2 separate regions of the Homo sapiens genome follow, and region 1 is linked to region 2. The links come from fine-mapping of genetic effects on plasma protein levels. A gene starts in region 2. The other region holds a variant in brackets. All regions are shown on one strand. Distances are from middle to middle. Region 1 overlaps CD59 (CD59 molecule (CD59 blood group)). Region 2 holds the start of CD59 (CD59 molecule (CD59 blood group)).

The links. A credible set is the group of variants that fine-mapping cannot tell apart. PIP is the chance, under the fine-mapping model, that this variant and not a neighbour inherited with it causes the effect. Protein levels are from antibody-based Olink assays in UK Biobank. Linkage for the fine-mapping came from a reference panel and not from the study's own genotypes, which makes the PIPs less certain.
Region 1: its variant is the best candidate, but not a certain one, in a credible set for the plasma level of the CD59 protein (UK Biobank, PIP 0.50).

What each region holds. Positions count from the first base shown.
Region 1 is chr11:33,714,328-33,722,327 of GRCh38, reverse strand. CD59 (CD59 molecule (CD59 blood group)) reads left to right here. Exons shown (of 4, transcript NM_000611.6): 3 at 4,857-4,958. Among named protein-coding and RNA genes, the nearest start is that of C11orf91, 18 kb to the right of the region's middle. The variant A/C (reference allele first, on the strand shown) is at 195.
Region 2 is chr11:33,731,765-33,741,670 of GRCh38, reverse strand. CD59 (CD59 molecule (CD59 blood group)) reads left to right here and starts at 5,248. Exons shown (of 4, transcript NM_000611.6): 1 at 5,248-5,289. It overlaps FBXO3 (F-box protein 3), which reads left to right. Exons shown (of 11, transcript NM_012175.4): 11 at 1-727. RefSeq lists a silencer at 5,130-5,599 and an enhancer at 9,089-9,218.

The DNA.
Region 1 (8,000 bases), 18 kb after region 2:
CCCTTCTTAAGCCTCAGTTTCAGCCCCAGCTGCTCCTCCAGGCCTGGCTTTGGTTCTTTTGCCTTCCAGTGTTACAGGTCTGGGGTTGTATGACAGCTCCTTCCTATGTTATGACCTTGTCCTCAGTGGGGCATCGTCCTGAGTTACAGCCCGTCCTGAGTTACAGCGTGGCTTTTGGCAGGGGTGGGTCAACA[A/C]TCGGCGGCTGAAGTTTCACTCCTGTCACCATAAGCTGCTTGGGGACACCAATGGATACCATTCTTAGAGTGCTGTGCAAGTCCCTTTGGGGTCCACTCTGCTTAGAGCCATCTGAGCTCAGTCCTTCTGCTCTGAGGCTCCTCCTGTGTTTTAATGATGATGATGGTCATAGTGACAGCAGCAGCAGCTAACTAACCCTGAAGCATTTATGTGCCAGTCACTACTCTAAGCATTTTACGTGTATTTGCTTATTTAATCCTCATGCCAACCTGATGGAGTTGGTGGTATTTTTATCCTTGTTTTACAAGCAACAAGATTGAGGCCTCCCCAAAATTAATAACTTGTCAAATAACACACAGAAGTGGTACACGGGAATGTGAACACACAGTCTGGCAACAGAGTCCCTGCTCTTCCCTCCTGCTCCAGGCCATCTGTCACTGGGCCACCCCCTCTCCTCAGCCACCCCTCCCCTGGTTGCTGGAGGAAATTGTGTGCTTCTGAGTCAACTTCTATAACAGTGGAAACACACATGCTTCATTGTAAAGATCAAGTGTGGTTGTCTGCCTGTGTCATGTTGGTATAATATCTTGGCCACTGCTGGTTTTTTGTTTTTTATAAATATGGTTGGTGGGGGGAGCAGAAAAGAAAGTGGCAATACAGTGAGCAATTTAAAAAAAGATTTCCACACCACTGTAGCATGTCTTAGAATATTAACAGCAACCATATATTCACTGTTTATTGTTTACTGGGGACTGTGCCAGAGCCTGTCTCATTTAAATCCGTCCAGCCATTCCGGGAGGTCGGTACTGTTACCTCCCATATTACAGCTGAGGAAATGAAGGCAAAGTAGTAACTTGGCGCCAGGACACACTTTAATATGTTCTCCCTTTCTGAGCAGAAAGAGAAGTCATGGCACCCCTTCTTCCCCACCTTCCGTGATTCTAGCCAGGGTGCACTGTAATGTGGTTCACCTGTGTTAAAACACTATATTTTTTCTATAATTATTTTTTATTTATTCATTTTTCTTGGTTCCTTCTTTTTTTCTGTCTCTGCTGCTTAAGTTGGAATATTTTCTAGAATTTTAATAGCCCAGTGACATCCTACTTCCAGCAGTCTGCATTTGTTTATGGAGCAAGCTTGGGACCATCAGCTTCTCTGTGACAAGTCTTGGGGTGCACTTCAGCCCTTTCTCAGAGAATTGAGATGTGAAGCTCACATGCCCACAGATGAGAGGCCTTCTTTGCTGCTGCCCAAAAGGGTCTCAGGACCCTGCAGGGGAACTTTCCTCTGAGCTCTGCCTCTTATGGCCCAGGGGAAACCTCGTCTACCCTGGCTTAGTGGCTAAAATATCAAACCATTGTCCACTGACCTATTGCTTGTTTTTTTTTGTTTGTTTTTTTCAGGGGGATGGAGTCTCACTCTGTCGCCCAGGCTGGAGCGCAGTGGCGCGATCTCGGCTCACTGCAACCTCCGTGTCCCAGGTTCCAGCGATTCTCCTGCCTCAGTCTTCTGAGTAGCTGGGATTACAGGAGCATGCCACTATGCCTGGCTAATTTTTGTATTTTTTTTTATTTACTTTTTAATTTTTGTATTTTTAGTAGAGGCGGGCTTTCACCATGTTGGCCAGGCTGGTCTGGAATTCCTGACCTCAAATGATCCACCTACCTCAGCCTGCCAAAGTGTTGGGATTACAGGCGTGAGCCATTGCACCTGGCCCTGTTGCTTGTTTTTGACCTCAGTTTCCACCATAATCTAGAGTTTCCTTCTCTTCCCACTCAGGTCAATTAGAAGAACATCATGGTTAACCAAGCTTGGATTTTAGAACTGACAGCCTGAGTTTGAGCTCAGCTCGGTCACTTAGTAGCTGTGTGGCTTTGAACAATTTAGTTAACATCTTAGTCTTAGTTTTCTCTTGCAAGGTGGGGATGAAGATAATTGAGCCTAGTTCTCTTAACAATCCTATGAAGAGCTTAGCACATAGATGCACATATATTTGAACACTGAATGAACATGTTTGCCATGAATATTTTTGCCCACAGACGTTCCAACCATGGGTTTTAGCCTTTCCTTCTAAAGCTTTCTTAAGAGGCCAAATGAGCCCGGGATCTAGCCACCACAAAAATCCATGTCTACAGGTAACCTTTTAAAATGGCCCTCAAACATGGCCAGTCTCAAGAACAACACCCTTCATCTTAGACTCTTTTCATTTCATGCGTGTGAATACATGTCTGGCACAAGGAAGGGACCAAAGAAAAATTGCATCTTTGCGCCTTCTCCTTGTGGCTTCCCTCTCACACGGGCATGACAGCCACAGGCTGACAGTGGGGGAGAACAAACAAAGCCTGGTGGATGGGGCCCTGCCCACAGGCCCCAGGGCTGCCGCCAGCTCTGCTGCTTTGTAGCCAGGTGTCCTTGTGTGAGTCACATCACCTCTCCAGACATCTGTCTTGTCATCTGCAAAAAAGTTGGGGAGGAGGTTGGTTTTTATTTTATTTTATTTTATTTATTTTTTAGACATGGTCTCGCTCTGTCTCCCAGGCTGGAGTGCAGTGGTGCAAGCTTGGCTCACTGCACCCTCCACCTCCCAAGCTCAAATGATTCTCATGCCTTAGCCTCCTGAATAGCTGGGATTACAGGCATGTACCACCATGCCCGGCTAATCTTTGTATATTTTGTAGAGGCGAGGTTTCACCATGTTGGCCAGGGTGGTCTCAAACTCCTGGCTACAAGTGATCCACCCACCTCGGCCTCCCAAAGTGCTGGGATTGTAGGTGTGAGCCGCCACACCTGGCCTAGTTTGTTGTTGTTTTTTAAAACTAATATTTCAAGGCATTAATCTGTAACCTTCACAAGTCAGAGGATCCTCTATTGGGTAGGATTTCACACCTGTGAGGGCAGACATGGCCATTTCAGATGCTCTAGAGAACTGGGTTCCTGTGTGTGCTCAGAAAGTGAGGACCCACCTTGCTTCCACTGGACTTTCCACTGAAAAATCTATTTCCATGGTGATAAACCTAGCCTTCAGCCTTAGAACTAGAAGTCAGCTGTTGGGCTCTAAAACCCACACTTGGTTTAACCATGACATTCTTTTGTGAGATTTTACGTGTTTCATCTTTGAAAATGTCTTTTCACAGAGGTAGGTACTTCCAAATACTGATTACATGGTAGAAGTCATATGGCATGAAGATAGTTTATCTCTGATGATGGAAAAGGGGGTATCCATACAAACCAGGAAGATTTCCTTCCAACTCTTGCTTCCTCAGTCTCTCCCCATCACACGTGTGGACTGTAACTCATCTTTTTGTTGTCACTGTTGTTACAAAAATGGAGAAGGAAAAATAACCCAGCAAAAACTGACAGCTAGCAAGGATGAGTCTTAAGAATTGACTGGGAGCAATAATTGTTTTTCAAACTAGGGAACTGGAGGCAATTTGCTTCTGATGTAAGATGACCCTCACGTTGTGTCTGCTGGTACCCAGCTGTCCTATGCCCATGGGTTTAAAGTGCACAGCTGTTGTCTTGTCTTTGACAGTGTGTACTCCTGGCATTCGGTCAGTCCCTTAGAAGGGGGTAGTTCAGTAATGATACCCTGTCCCAGAGGTTACCAAACTTTTTCTGTACAGGACCAGATAGCAATTTTTTTTTTTTTTTAAACAGAGTTTTGCTCTGTCACCCAAGCTGGAGTGCAGTGGTGCAATTGTGGCTCACTGCAACCTCTGCCTCCTGGGTTCAAGCGATTCTCCTGCCTCAGCCTCCCAAGTAGCTGGGATTATAGGTGTGCACCACCATGCCTGGCTAATTTTTTTATTTTTAGTAGAGATGGGGTTTCGCTATGTTGGCCAGGCTGGTGTCAAACTCCTGACCTCAGGTGATCCACCCTCCTCGGCTTCCCTAAGTGCTGGGATTACAGGCGTGAGCCACTGCGCCTGGCCCAGATAGTAAATATTTTAAGCTTTGCAGACCAAGAGGCAAAATCAAGGGTATTATGAGACTTACCTCAATAATAAGAAACAAAATTTTCACAGATTTTTTTATTGACAAAATTCATAACATAATTATTGAGTCCAGCATAATAATACACATCTACTAATGAGGGGAATAGAATTCTTTTTAGGGGGATAACCATTTGCTTAATTGGGGTTCAAAATTAGTGTTCCCTCGCATCAAATCAATTGCAGATGTTCATCTATTAATACTAATCTGTGATGACATTTTACATATTTCATTTTGAAAATGTATTTTCACGCAGATAGGTATTGCCAGACATTGATCATCAACCCACGAGGATGTGATTTAATTGGGCATATTCATTGCTTGGAAGACACTTATAGAATTCTGTTTGTTTCTCGGTAATTTCTTCTTAACACATCATTACATTGCAGACTAATCTCCTTCCAGTTGCAGGTTAGGAGGAAGCTTCTCAATTGCACAGTTAGATGGATATTCAAATGTGGATATTTCCTTTGTGCTTGCATCAGGGTCCAAAAAATGTTGCTGGAACTGTAGTTTGAATTTGGAAAGATATAACTGCTATACATTTGTGCGGGAGTGGAAGTATACCACAAGTTGCTGACTTTGGGCCCATATTAATGGAGATGGTGGGCTGCCAGGGGACAAGTCAGTGCTGCTTTAAGAGATCCTGACTTTCTTCCTGATTCTAGGTCATAGCCTGCAGTGCTACAACTGTCCTAACCCAACTGCTGACTGCAAAACAGCCGTCAATTGTTCATCTGATTTTGATGCGTGTCTCATTACCAAAGCTGGTAAGAGCCTCCCCTGTCTGTCTCCTAAATGTAATGGGGTAATAAGTGCCTGGGAAAAAAATTGTGCCACTGTAATCCTCATTAGGCTTGCATCAAGTAATAGCTACCATTTATTAGCGTCAGGTGTGTATTGGGCTAAGCACTTTCTTCATACATTTTAAATTTAATGTTTTGCACTTCTAAGGGTGATCTTTTATTTCCATTTGATAAATGTGGAAATGGAGGTTCAGATTAAGCAAGAAATTATGGTTAAGTAACCGACTCAGGAATTGAACATGGAAGTCCATCTGATTCCAAAGCTTGTGCTCTTTTACAGCAGCCCTGTGCTGCCTCCCAGACCTTGGAGAACCTACTGTGTGCCCAGCAGAGGGTTAGGAGCTAGGGATGCAAAGATAAAGAAAGGACACATACAATTAAAATTATGACAAAGGCCTGTTTGGCTGTCCTAAATGTCATTATATATGCCTCTGTCTCATTCCATGGGGTATCTGGTATATTCAGAGTCCTGAGGAGACTCAAGCTGAGCTCAAAGGACACGTAGGAGGTAAGAGGGCTAAGAAGGGAAGGGTGTGCCTGGGAGGGGCAACAGCAGGTGCCAGGGCTCGGTAGCCTCAGAGCAAGGTGCTCATGAATTTGGGGATGGGCAATGCTAACATGCACAAGTCCTGTCCAGTCTGCATTTTCCAAATTTGTTAGACTACAGAATATTCACCTCCATCACCCTGTTAAAATAGAGTTTAGGAAGTGGTAGACAGAGGAAAGAAACCAGCAAAGACATGCCCTCTGTTCTTGCTGGGGTGTGGTTCTGGATAGAATCGATGTGTGCAAATGATGCCAGCGAGGAATGGCAGTTTCAGAATGTTCTTAGTGTCCAAGGTAAAACCCTCAGGCTTAGATTTCTAAGAGATTAATAATAAAAACACTCCACAAGGTTATTTGTACTCTTAGACCTTCTACACCAGCTCCCCCCAGTGTCAACATCAAGAAATGGTGAACATGTCAGGTAAACTCAGAAAAGCCTTGGGACACCCACATGTTCAGAAAAACCTGAGATAAAGATGATTAACTTCCCCAGAAAGGAGAAATCCCTCAATAACTAAAGACAAATTATAGTTACCCTGTCTAAAAAAACAGGGGCATCTGATAATTTTGATATATTTAGCTGGATTTGATAAATTTGATATAGTTTAGCTGGATTGCAGCTAAAACTCCAAACCTTCCATTCAGAGCTCTTGATTCTGTAGGGCACCAGTCCCTCTGCCCCCACTGGAAGACCATATTCATTCACTGTTAATGTAGGAAGCGTAGTAAGGCCCCTAGCGAGAACATGGTCATTATGTACGAGCACAGAAGACTTGGCTCTTTAGCTTGATCAACTGTGTCTCTTGGACTCCTCACTACTAAGTATAATTAAACTAAGTATAGTTTCCAAATGAGACGATAAGGGCAATTACTATGTGTTGAATGAATATTACAGCAGCAATTAGAGCTCTGACTTCTGTCCTGCCACCAGCTAGCTCTCTCCACCTCTGTTTTTCATTTATGAAATGTATGTGTTGGACAGCAGAGGTAGGGAGGAGAGGAAAGGAGGTCAAAGCCAAGATCTTTTTCCAGCTCTTAAATCCCAAAATTTCTTATAAATGGTTAATGTAAACAAAAATGAGACACACCTATTAAAATGGCCAAACTCCAAAACTCTGACAACTCCAGATGCTGGTGAGGATGTGGAACAATGGGAACTTTGTTTTTCTGGTTTTTTTTTTCTTTTTTGAGACAAGGTCTTGCTCTGTCACCTAGGCTAGAGGGCAGTGGTGCAATCTTGGCTCACTGCAACCTCTGCCTCCAGGGTTCAAGTGATTCTCATGCCTCAGCCTCCTGAGTAATTGGGATTACAGGCATAAGCCACCATGCCCAGCTAATTTTTGTATTTTTAGTAGAGACGGGGTTTCACTATTTTGCCCAGGCTCATCTCAAACTCCTGGCCTCAAGTGATCTGCCTGCCTCGGCCTCCCAAAGTGCTGGGATTACAGGCGTGAGCTACCACGCCCAGCAGCAGTGGGAACTTTGATTCATTCCTAGTGGGAATGCAAACCAGTATAGCTACTGTGGATGACAGTTTGGTAGTTTATTACAAAACTAAAATATAACACAATATATAATACTTGATATTTTGATAATTATATACAGTATATAATATTTTATAATAAATGTGTTACTGGTTTGTGTATTTACTATATTTTTTATCATGTTAGCATGTAGTCCTTCTACTTACTAAAAAAATTAACTATAAAACAGCCTCTCGGGAGGCTGAGGCAGAAGAATTGCTTGAACCCAGGAGGCAGAGGTTGCAGTGAGCCAAGGTCGTGCCATTGTACTCTAGCCTGGGTGACAGAACAAGACTCTGTCTCTACAAAAGAAAAAAAAAAAAAAAAACAGCCTCAGCAGGCAGGTCCTTCAGGAGGTATTCCAGAAGAAGGCATTGCTCTCCTAGGACAGGACAGCCCCATGAGTATTCTTACCCCTAAGACCTTCCAGTGGGACAAGATGAAGAGGTGGAAAACAGTGATACTGATGATCCAGACCCTATGTAGGACTAGGCTAATGTGTGTGCTTGTGTCTTCATTTTTAACAAAAACAAGAAAAGTTTTTAAAAATTTTTTTAAATAAAAAAGCTTATAAAATAAGAATAGAAAGAAAATATTTTTGTGCCACTGTATAACATGTTTGTGTTTTACCCTGTTTTATTACAAAGGTAAAAACATTTACAATTAAAAAATTTCTAAAGTAAAGTGGCAGTAAACTAGGGTTGATTTTTTAAAATAAGCTTAGTGTGGACTAAATGTACAATATTTAAAACATCTACAGTAGTGTACAGCAATGTCCTAGGCCTTCACATTCGCCCACCACTCATTCACTGACTTCCAATCTCACAAGCTCCATTCACAGTAAGTGCCCTGTACAGGTGTACCATTTTTAAAATCTTTTGTGTCATATTTTTACTGTATTTTTCTATGTTTAGATATGGTCAGATACACAAATATT
Region 2 (9,906 bases):
AGAATAGTTCTCTAGCTAAGGAATGGACATACCTTTGTTTTAAAATATTTTATACTTACAAAAATCTAGAAATGGAGAGGGAACTGTTTTGAATAAGGATTTAAAATACCTGCACAAGGATAGAGAGAAACTATGTGACTCATTCTGTGAAAAGACTTCTTGCAGTTGTGAGTTATTTAGAAATGATCAAAATTTGTAATTAGGCTAATCCATTTAGTGATTCCTAATATTTTGTACTCACAGAGAACTAATTGACTAAACAACTTGAACGCTAGTGGTTTGTCCTTAGACAATCTGTCTTTGAATTTAAAGTCTTTATCGCTAAGACCTTGACTTTAAATTTTTCATCACTACAACCTTGAATTTAATTTCAGGTCTTCAACATGATGACCTTGGATTTAATTTAAAGTCTTCAACACTATGCGCTTTATCATATTATTCACAGATGCATTTTTGAAATGTAGTATGTAAAAGTATGTAACGTGCTGTTTATTAACAAAAGATTGTTCACAACATCTCATGTAGTTTAAATTTGTAAATACTGCTTCTGTTTTGTTTCTCCTTTATACACTTGACTGTCTTTGTGATAAGTGACATGAATTTTATGTTAGGATTAAGTATGTTTTCCTGAAACTTGGATTTTTTTTGTAATTATATAATTGAGAGTTAAGAATGAAATCCTTCAAGTGTTAAAAACTCACATTTTAAAAGCAAATTTTGGTTCCAATTCTGTATTTTGTATAATTGCTTATTTTCCATAAACTAATATTAGTCAGCATTTGCTTTTAAGGTAGAAGATGGGATGGATTCTTGCTGACCTGCTGCAAAAGTAGCAGGTCCACTCAAAGTCATCTCCTAGCTTTGACTGTACTGTCTTGTGTGCCCCACCATCCATTTTCCCCCAAGAACAGTTATTTTATAGAGAAAACTGTAAGAAAACAAGTGGCATTCAAGGCTAAGCAGCTGCCATTAGGGAACATGAAGACAAACTTATCCTTTCATTTTCACACATGTCAAGGTGTTCTGAAATAGACTAAGTCATTTTTCATGTTTACTTTTCATTTAATAGAGTATAATCAGGCTATCAAATCCTATTATGGCTATCCTTTTTTTTTTTTTTTTTTGAGACGGAGTCTCACTCTGTGGCCCAGGCTAGAGTGCGGTAGTGTGATCTCGACTTACTGCAAGCTCCACCTCCCGGGTTCACGCCATTCTCCTGCCACAGCCTCCCAAGTAGCTGGGATTACAGGTGCCCACCATCACGGCCGGCTAAGTTTTTGTATTTTTAGTAGAGACAGGGTTTCACCATGTTAGCCAGGATGGTCTCGATCTCCTGACCTCATGATCTGCCCACCTTGGCCTCCCAAAGTGCTGGGATTACAGGCGTGAGCCACCGCCCCCGGCGGCTATCCTTTTTAGAAAAAAAGTCAATTGTCTTTATTTAGTTTGTTATAACAAAATACCTTAGACTGAGTCATTTACAAACAATAGAGATTTATTGCTCACAGTTCTGGAGGGTGGGAAGTCCAAGATCAAGGCATCAGCAAATTTGGTGTCTGGTAAGTACCCACTCTCTGCTTCAAAGATGGCACCTTCTTGCTGTGTTTTATGTGGTGGAAAGAGCAAACAAACTTCCTCAGGCCTCTTTTATAAGGGCACTAATCCCCTTCATGAGGGCAGAGCCTAAAGGCCCTACCTCTTAATACTATTGCTTTAGGGATTGGATTTCAACAATTTGGGGGAACAAAAACATTCAGACCATAGCGTCAAACCACTTAATTTTTTCAAAACCGAACTTTTCCAATAAAGCAGTAATCAAAAACTAGTAAATCTTGGCAATTAAGGCTGGCCCTGGAATCCCTTGCCATTTTTTCTTTCTCTTTTCTGATGACCTCTCTCTCTATTTCCAGAGTACTTATGATGCCCCAAATCTCCCTTCCAACCCTGTCTAACCTTTGCTCCTCAGAATGCTTTGATTTGCTTTATCCTCTCATCAGAATTCACATTCTCTTAGTATGTTGAATGAGTGACCTCTAGTTCATACTGAGGTGTAGTTTTTTGTTTGTTTTTTCAGACAGTCTCGCTGTGTCTCCCAGACTGGAGTGCAGTGGCATGATCTCGGCTGACTCCAACCTCCGCCTCCCAGGTTCAAGTGATTCTTATGCCTCGGCCTCGTGGGTAGCTGGGATCACAGGTGTGCACTACCATGCCCTTTTTTGCATTTTTAGTAGAGCCAGGGTTTCACTATATTGACCAGGCTGGTCTCAAACTCCTGTCTTTAAGTGATCCTCCTGCCTCTGGCTCCCAAAGTGTTGGGATTACAGGTGTGAGCCACCGCGCCCGGCCTAACGTGAAGTTTGTTGGTAACAAGCTTCTGTATTTTCTGCTATTGGCAAGAATGCTTATTCACACGTAACAGGAATTTAACAGTTGGCATTAATGTTGCCCAAACCAGACTCTACTTTTGGTGGTGAAAAGGCCATTTCTGGCTCTGAGGACCCTTGAAAACACAACTGATTTTTTTTACTAATTTCTCTGAGGCTTGATATATCACTAGAATAAGACAAATACCTAAATTAACAGTAGCTTAAATAGTTTGGGGGTGGTTATTCTTGCGAATAGTCAGAGGTAGCTAGTTCAAGGCTGACATGATGGCACAGTGGTGTTATCAACAGTCCAGATTGGCTCCATCTTTCTGACCTGCCATCCTTAGCACAAGACTTTTCCTCTCAAAGACGATCATGGTTGCATACTGGCTGCTGCAGGCATATTGTATTCACAAAAGGATGATGATAACAAGGTAAAATGAAGTGGAAAATGAAAAGTGAGGCATGAGGCTGGAGAGGTAAACTAGCCAGGTCTCTAGCAGCCGTGTGGAGGGCAAGCAGAGAAGGGGCAGGGGATGCAGGAATTGACATGGGCAACATGGGGACCTGGTATTAAGGAATTGTAATGGCTCAAGCAACGCAAACTACAGATCTGAATTAGCACAGTAGCAATGTGAAAAAGGAATGAAATTGAGATATTGAAATGGTAAAATAGGCAGGAATGGCTGAGTAGATGTGAGGGAGTGGAAGAGGTCAACGTTGATTCCTAGGTTTCTGTCTTCATTTATGAAAAAAATTCAGGAAAAGCAGTCACTCTTTAAAGATGAATTCAGATTTGTGCACATTAAGTTCAAGATGTCTGTGGAACATATAAGTGGAGATGTCCAGCAGTCAGCTGGATATGAATATGAAGATAGGGGGAGTGGTCAGGGATGGAGACAGACTTTTGAATCATCTGCAAACATACATCCCAAGGTAAAAGAGTAGATACACTATAGTCTCCCAGGGAGCACACACAGCCATGGTTCTCAGTCTAATCCTGGGACACCAAATTATTAGTGGGTAAAGGAAAAGAATCTCAAGACCGAATGGTCAAGAAACCATTCTAGGGAACCAAACTAGGAGAGAGTGGCATCTCAGAAGCCAAGCGTGTCAAGGAAGGAATAGCTAACAGGATGTGTGTAAGGTATGTACACAAAAGAGCTTTGGAATCCATCTTGGGAAATATACAGTATTAGCTGTTTTAAGGAGACATGCTTTAAATATCAAAGCAAGTCATCCTGATTTAAAAAACTCCCACTTGTATAGAGGAATACCAGGATTTGAGCACCACCAAATGGAACTCATTCCCTGACATCCCAAAGCCATCAGAATAACAGTAGAAGCGTCAAGACAGTTACTATATGATTTTCCCTGCAAGACATTCAGTAATCTATGATTCCCCCTGCTTAAATTTTATCTCATGCCTTCTTCCCTGACCAGTTCAACACAAGCAGCCCTGAGATGTAATATCTTCTCACCCTGACCCTCAAAGTGTGTCTCATGCTTTCTAACAGAGGCCATCCTCTTGGAGGAAGACTTGTACTTTTGGCCTGTAGCCCCACCCTCCCTCCTATGGCGTTCTTACAGTCAGTTCTGCAGTGAGTGGGACACTTTCCAAATATAATAGCAAATGGAAACTTCTAATTACATCTGCACATAAAACTAATGTTCCAAATGGTGGTTGCGGTTCTGGTGAGTGCTTATAATTTTTTGTTACCTCAGCATCCATTTTTGAATATGTTTAACTTTTAATAACAGAAGCAAGTCTCAGTCACCATTGACAGTTTCCAGTACTATACCCCACGCAAATGGCTCTAGCTGGTGGCCAGAGATAAACATGCAGTGATGTGATAACAGGGCACTACTGCAGCTTCAAACTCTGGTTCAAGTTCCTCCCACCTCTGCCTTTTCACCTGCTTGCTTTTAAATCCACCAGTTAGAGCTCTCCAGAGGAAACCTAACTGGATAAAGTTGCTGGCCCAAAGGTCCGTTCCTCCCTTCCCTCTCCCTGTTCTCCCTGATCTCCGTGTGTGTGTGTGTGTGTGTGTGTGTGTGTGTGTGTGTGTCCTCTAGGCAAGCTGTGTACCACCCAGGGTCCGTAAGTACTAAAAACTCTTAAACTTTCACACCGCTGTGTTATTGAAACCATGCCTACAATCCAGTCCCTGAGGCGAGGCCACCCTGAAGGGACAGACTCATGCAGGCGGATCCCCTGGTCTTGCTCTTCTGTCCCTGCCTCTGGTGGCTGCTGGGGAACAGTAGCTACCAGCTAAGTTGATAGAGACACTCGAAGAGGTTCATTCAAAACACTGGTCCCCGAGCAGCCCAGTAAGCTTTTAAACGCATAACATTTTGTTTGGGTCTCAAACAAGTCACAAGGCACGGATACGGATGCGGCTGTGGCTGATGGCTATTTGGATGCTGCCCAAGCCTCGCAGTAGGAAGCAGCTTCAGACTGCAGCAGGGCCGCATAGCCCGATAGCCAGGCCCTGGGGCACCCAGGGCACCAGCAAGACGCACAGAAACGTTTTGAAAAACATTTTAATATACTTAAAAAAAAAGTAAAAGGGAAAATCAGAAGTCTTTGGAAGTTTCCTACTGTTTTTATGTCCCATAGCAAATCCGAGGAGGACGCCCCAAACTTTCAGTTCCCTGGGGTTTTGAAGGTGCTCATTGGGTCCTGGCCACCCGGCCTTCTCAGAACCTGGGCCAGGAGGCTGAGCTCCGCGCGGGGGTGGAGGGAGAGGAGGAGGTTCCTGCCGAGGTGCGGCTGCGCGGTGCGGGAGCCGGGAGCCTGGGAGGGCAAGGGCATCCTGAGGGGCGGGGCCGGGGGGCGGAGCCTTGCGGGCTGGAGCGAAAGAATGCGGGGGCTGAGCGCAGAAGCGGCTCGAGGCTGGAAGAGGATCTTGGGCGCCGCCAGGTAAGAAGGCCCGAAGGCCTGCTGGGGTTTGGGTGAGCCGAGCCGAGGTGGCGGCGGCAGTCTGGGCCCGGGCGGAGGGTCTGTGGGGGCTACCCCCGTCCTCGCTTTCCACTCGACCCCTGCCGGGCGAGCCTCCCGAGGCCTGGCCCTTCCAACCCGTCACCGCGGCCCGGTGTCCTAGCCGAACGCTGGCTTCATTTTATCTACGAGGAAGGAGAAACGGGGAGCGCGCCCTCTCCCAGAAGCAGCCCCGTTACCCCCGTCGCGCCCCCCATTCCCTCGGGGGCAGCCTCGCACCCGGGCCCCTGCCATCGCTTTCGTCTCAAGGGAAGCTCTAGCGGTCCAGAGAAACTGCGCCGGGGGAAAGGCCAGCCCTCCGTGGTCACGGCAGTTCCTCTCTCCCCTCGCGGTCTAAATGTGTAATTTTGAAAAGCAGGTGTCGGGCGAAACGGACTTTTTTTTTTTTTTGAGATGGAGTTTCGCTGTTGCCCAGGCTGGAGTGCAGTGGCGCGATCTGGGTTCACCGCAACCTCCGTGTACCGGGTTCAAGCGATTCTCCTGCCACAGCCTCCTGAGTAGCTGGGATTACAGGCATGCGCCACCATGCCTGGCTAAATTTTGTATTTTTAGTAGAAACGGGGTTTTCCCATGTTGGTCAGGCTGATCTTGAATTCCTGACCTCGTGATCCGCCCGCCTCCGCCTCCCAAAGTGTTGGGATTACAGGTGTGAGCCACCGCGCCCGGCCGAAACGGACGTTTTAAGTACAACGTGATGTTTTGTTTTCTTGGGTCGGCTCGGGCCGCACCCTTCTTAGAGTCTGACTGCTGACTTTTCAAAAAACAACATTAACCCGGGAGGCTGAGGTAGCGGTGAGCCGAGATCGCGCCATTGCCCTACTGCCTGGGCAATAAGAGCGAGACTCCGCCTCAAAAACGAACAAAACCCACAAAGAACAAACAAAAAAAACCAACATTAAGCAGTGTGCCTTTTATGGCCGTTTAGTGATACCCAGGCTCTTCACTGGTCATTTCTGGAAGTATTTAACAGCACTTGATGGGTAAAACAATAGGCTTCACTTCACAGGGTGGTTGAGATGATTGACGGAAAGCGCTCAGCACAAACGCGGCGGCTGCTAATTATTTCAGGTACCCTGCGATCCCTGAGCAGTTGTTCAAGTTCTCCACTCCTGGCGGTTTACTCCCAGTTCCCTGAAGAAGGCACAGAGCCCCGAATGTTGAGGGAGATGGCAACGTTTGCCAAAATGTGGCTATTTACGTGGCAGTTTATGAAGGAGAGGCAGAAAGGGAGGCTGCCTCCCCTACAAGCCAAACAGTCCTAAAACTTGTGGCCTCTGTATTTTCACAGTGGAAACTAGAAACTGTTTGCTGAACTTAGCTGTAAGAAAAACATCCCATTAGCTGAGTGGCTTAGGAGATAAAAGCCTAAATAAAATGGATCTTAGGGTGAGAGAGTGGGGTGCCTAATGGCATTCATCTTTGACAGCTGCTGGTAGAAGCTCTTGAAAAGTAGAGCATGGAAAATTCTGGGCCACCTCTTTAAGAACCTCAGCCAAACCGCCACAGACATTGCCAAGCCCAGAAGTGCTTGAGGCTTTCTAAAGGCAAAGACTTCTTTTTACTTATGTCCTATATCTTAGGAAACATATTCACTAAACCTTGGTTTTGCATGTGTACTTAACACGGGAGGGGCCGTGAGTGCGGAGATAGGACTCTTTGGAGAGTTAGGGATTGGCATTCCGGAACAAACTGCAGGAAAGGCCCTTGTAGGGGAAGCTGCAGATTTGTTTGGTCCAAAGAGTTCTGGCCTAATAAGTGGGAGCTGACCAATGAGAACACTTGGACACAGGGAGGGGAACAACACACACTGGCGCCTGTCGGCAGGTGGGGTGGGTGGGGATAGAGCATTAGGAAAAACAGCTAATGCATGCTGGGCTTAATACCTAGGTGATGGGTTGATAGGTGCAGCAAACCACCATGGTACACGTTTACCTATGAAACAAATCTGCACATCCTGCACATGTACCCTAGAATTTATATGTATATCACACAAAGAGTTTTGGAGTGGTTATTCCTGGCATGAGAACCTTGGCTGGATTGGAAAGCCTTTTCCGTTATGATGGTTGTTTTCTCTTTGTCTCTTCCTGCTGATGTAATTTGTTCCGTGAACTGAGTGATGGATGTTTGTCTGGGCGCTTCAACAGGCATGGCTAGAGCAGGTATTGTGTATGTCTCCAAGGTGACACGCAGACCTGGGGTTCAAAAGCTCTAGTTCTCTGACATTGCTGACACTAGGTATCTTGTGAGTTGCCAGCCCCTGGCGAATAGAAACAAGATCCATCCAGGGTGGTTTTGCGACTAACATGTTGCCTTGGGACAGGTAATTTCATCCCACTGGGCCTCCACTAATTTCCTATAAAATAAAAACATTGGGTTTTATTTTGAGGACACTTCTAGCCTTAAAATTCTTCAGTCTGTAAGGCCTCAGGCTCCTAGGAGGAGTAACCATACTCATGGGCAACTGTGAATCTTGTGGAAACACCACTGATGTCAACTCTCTTCTCTAATGACCTCAGCTTAACTAATGTATTTCAGAAGCTGAATTTATAAGAAGTCTCCCGTCTCCCCACTAGAGTTTAACTATGGTTCGTTCACTCAGAGCTTAGACCTGGGTTTAAATGCTGTTCTACCAGTTTCCAGTTCAGAGGTTGCTATAATAATTTTAATAATTTTTTTTTTTAATTTTGAGACAGTCTCTCTCTGTTGCCCAAGCTGGAGTGCAGTGGCACAGTCTTGGCTCACTGCAACCTCCACCTCCTGGGTGCAAGCGATTCTCGTGTCTCAGCCTCTCAAGTAGCTGGGATTACAGGTGAGTGCCACCACATCTGGCTAATTTTTGTATTTTTTTTAGTAGAGACAGGGTTTCACCATGTTGGCCAGGCTGGTCTGGAACTCCTGGCCTCAAGTGATCCACCCGCCTCAGCCTCCCAAAGTGCTGGGATTATAGGCATGAGCCACCACACTCGGCCTTATAATAATTTTCTACTGCTGCTGAAACCACCACAAATTTAGCTGTTTCAAATGCCACAAGTTTATTAATCTTTCCATTCTGTAAATCAGAAGTCTGACACAGGTCTCACAGGGCTGTAATCAAGGTGGCAGGGCTCTGTGCTGCTCTGGAGGCTCTAGGGGAGAGTCTGTTTCTGTGCTCATTCAGGTTCCTGGTAGAATATAGTCCTTGTGACTGGAGGACTGAGGTTCTGTTTCTTTGCTGAGTGTCAGTTGAGGACCATTCTTAGCTTCTAAAGGCCGCCTGTGTGCCTTGGCTTAGGGAACCCTTCGTGTCTTCATCTCATTCTTCAAATTTCTTGCCTCTTTTTCTGTTGTCGGTCATGAGTCTTTGACAGACTCTGCTACCTTCTTCCTCTTTCAATGACCCCTGGGATTACATTGGGCCCATTGAATAATCCAAAATAATCTCCTTAATCTCATCTACAAAGTCACTTGCCATGCAAGGTCTCCTGTTTTCACAGGTTCCTGGAGTTAGGATACGGACATTTTTGGGGAAGAGAGGCATTATTCTACCTACCACATAAGTTAGTTGCATAAATTAGTTCTCTTCCTCAATCTTGTTTCCTCCCCCTGTAATTGGAGGCAAAGGTTCAGTTTACCTTATGGTATTATTGTGAGGATTAACTCCAGTTACTATGTCAAGAGCATCTATCTTAGCAACTGGCCCTTGATATTTGCTCACCAAATGGAAGTTAACACAGGAACAAGGTGTATTAGTCCATTCTCACACTGCTATAAAGAAGTACCTGAGACTGGGTAATTTATAAAGAAAAGAGGTTTAATTGGCTCGCAGTTCTTTGGGCTGTATAGGCTTCTGCTTCTGGGAAGGCCTTAGGAAACTTAGAATCATGGTGGAGAAGGGGAAGCAAGAATGCCTTACTTGGCGGGAGCAGGAGGAAGACAGCAAAGGGGGAAGTGCTACACACTTTCAAACAACCAGATTTCCTAAGCTCTGCCACAAGACAGCACTAGGGGGATGGTGCTGAACTGTTAGAAACCACCCCATAATCCAGTCACCTCCCACCAGGTCCCTCCTCCGACACTGGGGATTAAAATTCAACATGAGATTTTGGAGGTGTATTAGTCCATTTTCATGCTGCTGATAAAGACATACCGAAGACTGGGTAATTTGTAAAGAAATAGAGGTTTAATGGACTCACAGTTCCACGTGGCTAGGGATGCCTCACAATCATGGCAGAGGGTGAAAGGCACGTCTTACTGGCAGCAGACAAGACAGAAATATGAGAGCCAAGTGAAAGGGGAAACCCCTTATAAAACCATCAGCTCTTGTGTGACTTATTCACTACCACAAGAACAGTATGGGGGAAACCGTCCCCAGTGATTCAATTATCTCCCACCAGGTCCCTCCCACAACACGTGGGAATTATGGGAGTTACAATTCAAAATGAGATTTGGGTGGGAACACAACCAAACCATATCACAAGGTCTTGCCTAATGGCTTGCATTCAATGTCATAATCATATGGGCCCTTAAAAGTAGAAGCGGCTCCTAAATATTTAAGAACTA